Linked DNA regions of Homo sapiens. The protein of the gene in region 1 interacts with the protein of each later gene in a biochemical or structural test. Each region holds a gene or a part of one and is shown in the gene's direction. Other genes may lie near its edges.

Region 1 (3,819 bases):
ATTGCTTTTAGCAGTATAGTTATTTTCACAGCATTGATTCTACCCATCCTTGAGCGTAGGTTGTGTTTTTCCATTTGTTTGTGTCATCTGATTTCTTTTAGCAGTGTTTTGTAGTTTTCCTTGTAGAGGTCTTTTACTTCCTTAGTTAGGTATATTCCTAGGTTTTGCAGCTATTGTAAAAGGGGTTGAGTTGTTGATTTGATTTGCAGCTTGTTTGCTGTTGCTGTATAGCAGTACTACTGATTTATGTACATTGATTTTGTATCCTGAAACCTAACAGAATTCATTTATCAGATCTAGGAGCTTTTTGGATGAGTTTTTAGGGTTTTCTAGGTATACAATCATATCATTTACTAACAGTGACAGGTTGACTTCCTCTTTACCAATTTGGATGCCTTTTAATTTCTCTTTTCTGACTGACTGTGGCTGGCTAGGGCTTCCACTACTATGTTGAATAGAAGTGGTGAAAGTGGGCATCCTTGTCTTTTTCCAGTTCTCATGGGGAATGCTTTCAACTTTTCCCCGTTCAGTATAACGTTGGCTGTGGGTTTGTCATGGATGGCTTTTATTACCTTCAAGTATGTTCCTTCTATGCTGATTTTGCTGAGTGTTTTCATCATAAAGGGATGCTGGATTTTGTCAGACGTTTTTTCTGCTTCTATTGAAGTGATCATGTGTTTTCGTTTGTTTTTCTCTTAGAGTTTCGCTCTTGTTGCCCAGGCTGGGGTGCAGTGGTACCATCTCAGCTCACTGCAACCTCCACCACCCAGGTTCAAGGGATTCTCCTGCCTCAGCCTCCCAAGTAGCTGAGATACCACATCTGGCTAATTTTTGTATTTTTAGATGGGGTTTCACCATGTTGGCCAGGCTGGTCTCAAACTCCTGACCTCAAGTGATCTGCCCTCCTCGGCCTCCCAAAGTGCTGGGATTACAGGCATGAGCCACCGCACCCGGCCTGATTTTTGTTTTTAATTCTGTTTATATGGTGTATCACATGTATTGACTTGTGTATATTAAACTTTCCCTGCATCCCTGGTTTGAAATCCATTTGATCATGGTAGATTATCTTTTTGATATACTGTTGGATTTGGTTAGCTAGTATTTTGTTGAGGATTTTTGCATCTATGTTCATCAGGGATATTGGTCTGTAGTTTTCTTTTTTGTCATGTCCTTTCCTGGTTTTGGTATTAGAGTGATACTGGCTTCATAGGATGATTTAGGGAGTATTCCCTCTTTCTCTTTTGGAATGGTTTCAGTAAGATTGGTACCAGTTCTTCTTTGAATGTCTGATAGAATTCAGCAGTGAATCCATCTGGTCCTGGACTTTTTCTTCTTGGCAATTTTTTTATTACCATTTCAATCTAAGTGCTTGTTATTGGTCTGTTCAGAGTTCTTATTTCTTCCTGGTTTAATCTAGGAGGTTGTATATTTCCAGGAATTTATCCATCTCCTCTAGGTTTTCTAGTTTGTGAGCACAAATGTGTTCATAGTAGCCTTGAATGATCTTTTGTATTTCTGTGGTATTCGTTGTTAATATTTCCTGTTTCATTTCTAATTGAACTTATTTGGATCTTCTCTCTTCTTTTCTTGGTTAATCTCACTAATGGGCTATCAATTTTGTTTATCTTTTCAAAGAACCAGCTTTTTGTTTCATTTATCTTTTGTATTTTGTTGTTGTTGTTTCATTTTTATTAAGTTCTACTCTGGTCTTTGTTATATCTTTCCTCCTCCTGGGTTTGGGTTTGGTTTGTTCTTATTTCTCTAGTTCTTGAGGTGTGACCTTAGATTGTCAATTTGTGCTCTTTCAGACTTTTTGATGTAGGCACTTAATGCTGTGAACTTTCCTCTTAGCACTGCTTTTGCTGTATCTTAGAGGTTTTGTTAGGTTGTGTCACTTTTTTCATTCAGTTCAAAGAATTTTTTTAATTTCCAGCTTGATTTTGATTTCATTATTGACCCAAAGATCATTCAGGAGCGGATTATTTAATGTTGCATGGTTCTAAGAATTCCCTTTGGAGTTGACTTCCAATTTTATTCCACTATGGTCTGAGAGAGTACTTGATATAATTTTGATTTTCTTAAATTTATTGAGACTTGTTTTGTGGCCTATCATATGGTCTCTATCTTGGAGAATGTTCCATGAATGTTCTGATGAATAGAATGTATATTCTGCAGTTGTTGGGTAGAATGTTCTGTAAATACCTGTTAAGTCCATTTGTTCTAGGGTATAAGTCCATTGTTTCTATGTTGACTTACTGTATTGAAGTCCCCCACTATGAGATGAGATTCTATTTTTGTGTATTTCAAGGTTTTGCTCTAAGATTTAGAACTCCTTTTAGCAGTTTTTGTAAACTATGCTGGCTTGGTAGTGGCAAATTCTCTCAGCGTTTGAAAAAGACTTTCATCTTTTCTTCATTTATGAAGCTTAGTTTCACTGGATACAAAATTCTTGGCTGATAATTATTTTGTCAGCTAATAATTATTTAATAAGGCTAAAGATAAGACCTTTATCCCCTCTAGCTTGTAGAGTATCTGCTGTTAATCTGATAGGTTTTTCCTTTACAGGTTACCTGATGCTTTTGCCTCCCAGCTCTTAAGATTTTTTCCTTCATCTTGACTTTAGATAGCCTGATGACTGTGTGTCTAGGTGATGATCTTTTTGTGATGAATTTCCTGGGTGTTCTTTGAGCTTCTTGTATTTGGATGTCTAGATCTCGAGCAAGGCCAGAGAAGTTTTTATTCTTTTGCCTTTGTCTTTGTTGAATTGGGTTAATTCAAGAGCCTTGTCTTTGAGCTCCAAAATTCTTTCTTCTACTTGTTTGGTTCTATTGTTAAAACTTTCCAGTGTATTTTGCATTTCTCTAAATGTGTCTTTCATTTCCAGAAGTCATGATTGTTTTTTATTTATGATATCTATTTCTCTGGAGATTTTTTTCGTCTACATCCTGTTTTGTTTTATTTTTAAATTTAAGTTGGTTTTCATCTTTCTCTGGTGCTTCCTTGAGTAGCTTAATAATTGACCTTCTAAATTCTTTTCTGGCAATTCAAAGATTTATTATTGGTTTGGATCCATTGCTGGTAAGCTAGTATAATCTTTTAGGGGTGGTTATAGAACCTTGTTTTGTCATATTACCTGAATTGTTTTTCTGGTTCCTTCTCGTTTGGGTGGACTATGTCAGAAGAAAGATCTGGGACTCAATGTGTGCTGTTTAAATTCTTTTGTCCCACAGAGTGATCCCTTGGTGTGGTGCTCTCCCCCTTCCCTAGGGGTGGGGCTTTCTGAGAGCTGGACTGCAGTGATTGTTATTGCTCTTCTGGGTCGAGCCACCCAGCAGAGCTACTGGGTTCTAGGCTGGTACTGGAGAGTGTCTGCTAAGAGTCCTGTGATGTGATCTGTCTTCAGGTCTGTATGCCATGGATACTAGCACCTGCTCTAATGGAGGTGGTAGGAAAGGAGTGAAGTGGACTGTGTGAGAGTACTTGGTTGTAGTTTTATTTAGTGTACTGGTTGTCTTGAATGCTAGTTATACTAGCACTGAAGTTATTACATGGACAGACTCAGGACCTCTCTGGTTGGCCAAGATGTTACAGGCAGTAGAATTAGCTGTTATTTTCTGCTTTCTTGGAGCAGGGTTGTTCTGTTGAATTGCTGTAATGGCTTGAATTGGTTGGCCTCCAGCCAGGAGGTGGCACTTTCAAGAGAGTATCAACTGCAGTAGTATAGCGGGGGATATAAGCTTGCCTTACGGTTTCCTGGATAGGTTTTCGGGCTTCTCAGGCAATGAGCAGGGCCCCACGAGTTTTTGTCTTTTGTTTACG
Region 2 (3,819 bases), on another chromosome or scaffold:
TGGTGGTGGTGGTGGTGACAGGGCCTTTCTCTGTTGTCCCATCCAGAGCGCAGTGGCACCATCAGCTCACAGCAGCTTTGACCTGGGCTCAAGTGATCATCCCTCTTCAGTCTCCCAAATAGTTAGAACTACAGGAGCGCCCCACCATGCCAAGCTGATTTTATTTTTTGGGGGGTGGGTAGAGATGGGGATTGGTTGGGGGGGCAGGGCTCACTATATTGCCCAAGCAGGTCTTGAACTCCCGGCCTCAAGCAGTCCTTCTGCCTTGGCCTCCCAAAGTACAGGAATTGCCAGCATGAGCTGCTGTGCCTGGCCCTATTTTTGAGATTTCTGAACTGCTTTGTTTTGGATTGAATGATGGCATCTGTGGTCAAAAAGTTTCTAATATGTTTATAGATTACTTGTGTTAAATGTTACTTGTTTTTGCTTGTGATCATATAATATGTTTTCTGTTTCCTTTTTTTTCTAACCTTAGAATAATTGCAGTGAGTTATGAAGCTCGTGCATTTGGAGTCACTAGAAGTATGTGGGCAGATGATGCTAAGAAGTTATGTCCAGATCTTCTACTGGCACAAGTTCGTGAGTCCCGTGGGAAAGCTAACCTCACCAAGTAAGAAAAAAACATTATTTAAGGAGACATAAAGGAGTCGAAAATAATACTCCATGAGGCTAGGAACTGGTGTTTTGAATTTGTTCCATGTAAATAACACCGGAAAAAATTCTTTTTGGTTAGCCATCTTGTCTCTGTGAAATGAAAAACAGATTTTAATATTGTGTTTTGGGGACAGTTCAAAACCATTATACCATATAAGAGTTGCTGCCTTTGATATCTATTCAGTTCCTTAATTGTTCAAAATTGGTTGTTAAATTCAGACTTAATACCAATTCCCATGTTCTCCATCCAAAAATCTAAAGTATTTGAAAAATTGACTGTGAAACTGAGAATTTTTCCAGGAAAGGCTGAGTCAAACTGACATTGTAGTACAATATCAGGAATTAGTTGCTATAATTGAACAATATCAAGGGAGATTTCTCTGTTTTTAGATTAAGCTATCTCTCCGCAAATATTAGAAGTTTCACCTTGGAATGGGGGATATGAATCAGCATAGCTAAGTCAGAGGTAGGCACAAACCCCAGCCTTTAATCCTAACAGCTAATATGTATTAAACATATTATCACATGCCAGGCACAGTGTTAAGCTCTCTATAGGCAATATCTCTATTAAATCTGACATTGTTATAAGGTAGGTACTAATATTACTCCCCCTTCACAGATAAGGAATCAAGTTCAGAGAAGTTAAATAATTTAAGTTAGGCTGGGGATGGTGGCTCATGCCTGTAATCCTAGCATTTAGGGAGGCTGAGGCGGGCAGATCACTTGAGTCCAGGACACCAGCCTGGGCAACATAGGGACCAGCCTGGGCAACATGGGGAAACCCCATCTCTAACAGAAAATACAAAAATTAGCCAGGCATGGTGGCACACACTTGCAGTCCCGGCTACTCAGGAAGCTGAGTTGAGAGGATTGCTTGAGCCTGGGAGGCAGAGGTTGCAGTGGGCCCAGATCACACCACTGCACTCCGGTCTGGGTGACAGAGTGAGACCCTGTCTCAAGAAAGAGAAAAGTTCAGACAGCTAAGTGAAAGACTGAGGATTCACATCTGTTTTTTAAGATTCTAGTATCTATGTTCTCAAGGTACACTATACTATGTGTTGTGGTATAGGAATCATGCTTTGACTTAGGACCTGACATACTTCTGAATTCTAATTCTAATTCTATGAATTAGAAGTCTAAAGGTAGAGTGGCATACAGACCCACATTGGAATTATTGCTAGAAAAGAAGATAGACTTGACTGAAGATTAAGTTTTCCAAATACTCTTAAAAATACCTTGCAGTGATTTGCTCAAGAGGCTGTGAGGAAGCACTGAAATAGAGTATTGTTTTAGAAAAACTCAAACTATGGTTTTCCTCTCCTCTCACACCACAAGAACAATCAACACAGAAGACATCTGTGACCAAAGGTGTGGAAGTATTTCCCCACACACCAATCAGCAGACACCAGCTGCATGTCCTCGCACTCAATTCCAACACTGTCTACCTGGAGATGGCATCAGATTCCACATGTTGAGGGCTCAATACCACAAGAACACCCCCTCCTTCCTTTCCATCACAAGTCCAGGCCTTTAGAACGTCTGAACAGCTGGCTTTAAGTTGGGGTTCCTGCAACCCCCTCTTTGGATTTGATTAATTTGCTGAAGCGACTCACAGAACTCAGGAGAACACTTACTTATGTTTATTATAAGGGATATTACGAAGGATACAGATAGGTTGGGCATGGTGGCTCACGCCTGTAATCCTAGCACTTTGGGAGGCTGAGACAGGAGGATTGCTTGAGCTCAGAAGTTTGAGACCAGCCTGGGCAACATAGTAAGACCTCGTCTCTACCAAAATTAAAACAAAAACAAAAACAAAAAAATTTAGCTAGACATGGTGTTGTGCAGCTCTAGTTCCAGCTACTCAGGAAGCTGAGGTGGGAGGGTCGCTTGAGCCCAGGAGATTGTGGTTCCAGAGAGTCATGATCAAACCACTGCATGCAGCCTGGGCAACAGTGAGATCCTGTCAAAAAGAAGATGAAGATGAAGAGATATATAGAGCAAGGCATGTGAGAAGGGGTGCGGAGCTTTCATGCCCTCCCTGGGTGAGCCACCCTCCAGGAATCTCTACTATTACAGCTATTTGGAACCTCTCCGGACCCTGTCCTCTTGGGTTTTTAGGGAGGCTCCGTTATGTACTCATGACTGATTAAACCATTGGCTATGGGTAATCAACTTGACCTGCAGTATCTCTCTTCCTCTCCCCTCCCCAGAAGTTGAGGGGGTGGGGCCAAAAGTCCCAACCCTCTAATTATGCCGTGGTCTTTTTGGTGACCTGCCCTATCCTGAAGCTATTAGTTAACATTAGCATACAAAAAGACAAAACTTGGGTGATTCCAAGGATTTTTGGAGTTGTATGCCAGGAAACTGGGATGAAGACCGAATATATATTTCACAATATTATAAGTATCCTTTTCTGGCTGTGTGTATGAGTATATTGCTCTTTCTTTTCTTTTTTTTTTTTTTTTTGTGGGTGGGGGACGGAGTTTCACTCTTGTTGCCCAGGCTAGGGTGCAATGGTGCAATCTCGGCTCACCACAACCTCCATCTCTTGGATTCAAGTGATTCTCCTGCCTCAGCCTCCCGAGTAGCTGGGATTACAGTCATGTGCCACCGTGCTGGCTAATTTTATATTTTTAGTAGAAATGGGGTTTCTCCATGTTGGTCAGGCTGGTCTCGAACTCCTGACCTCAGGTGATCCACCCACCTCTGCCTCCCAAAGTGCTGGGATTACAGGTGTGAACTGCTGCGCCCGATCTTGCTCTTTATTTTCTTTGAGGCCTATCCTCTTCCTAGTTCAAATAATGATTTAAAAAAAAAAAAAGTCAAGTATTTCTCTAATTCTCTAATTTGAGAGTGTTTTAGAACAATAATTATATTAGTTTTTATGGGTGTCATGGTGAAGAGGTACCGATGTTTTCATTTTTATGGTAAATATAAAGTCAATAGGAACAAAGAACTGGACACTACAAAGCAGGTCCAAGCCAAAGGAAAGCAAATATCTGTATATTGGCCGGATGTGGTGGCTCACGCCGGTAATCCCAGCACTTGGGGAGGCCGAGGTGGGTGGATCACCTGAGGTCAGGAATTCGAGATCAGCCTGGCCAACATGGTGAAACCCTGTCTCTACTAAAAATACAAAAAAATTCACCAGGCGTGGTGGCA

The links.
Region 2: the proteins of DTL (region 1) and POLH form a complex in vitro, tested with the Homo sapiens proteins (one study listed by BioGRID).

The regions. Positions count from the first base shown.
Region 1 is NC_000001.11:212,094,680-212,098,498, forward strand, and holds part of DTL (denticleless protein homolog), read left to right. Parts: intron 1-3,819. UniProt on the Homo sapiens protein: Substrate-specific adapter of a DCX (DDB1-CUL4-X-box) E3 ubiquitin-protein ligase complex required for cell cycle control, DNA damage response and translesion DNA synthesis.
Region 2 is NC_000006.12:43,582,532-43,586,350, forward strand, and holds part of POLH (DNA polymerase eta), read left to right. Parts: intron 1-475; coding exon 476-610; intron 611-3,819. UniProt on the Homo sapiens protein: DNA polymerase specifically involved in the DNA repair by translesion synthesis (TLS). Due to low processivity on both damaged and normal DNA, cooperates with the heterotetrameric (REV3L, REV7, POLD2 and POLD3) POLZ complex for complete bypass of DNA lesions.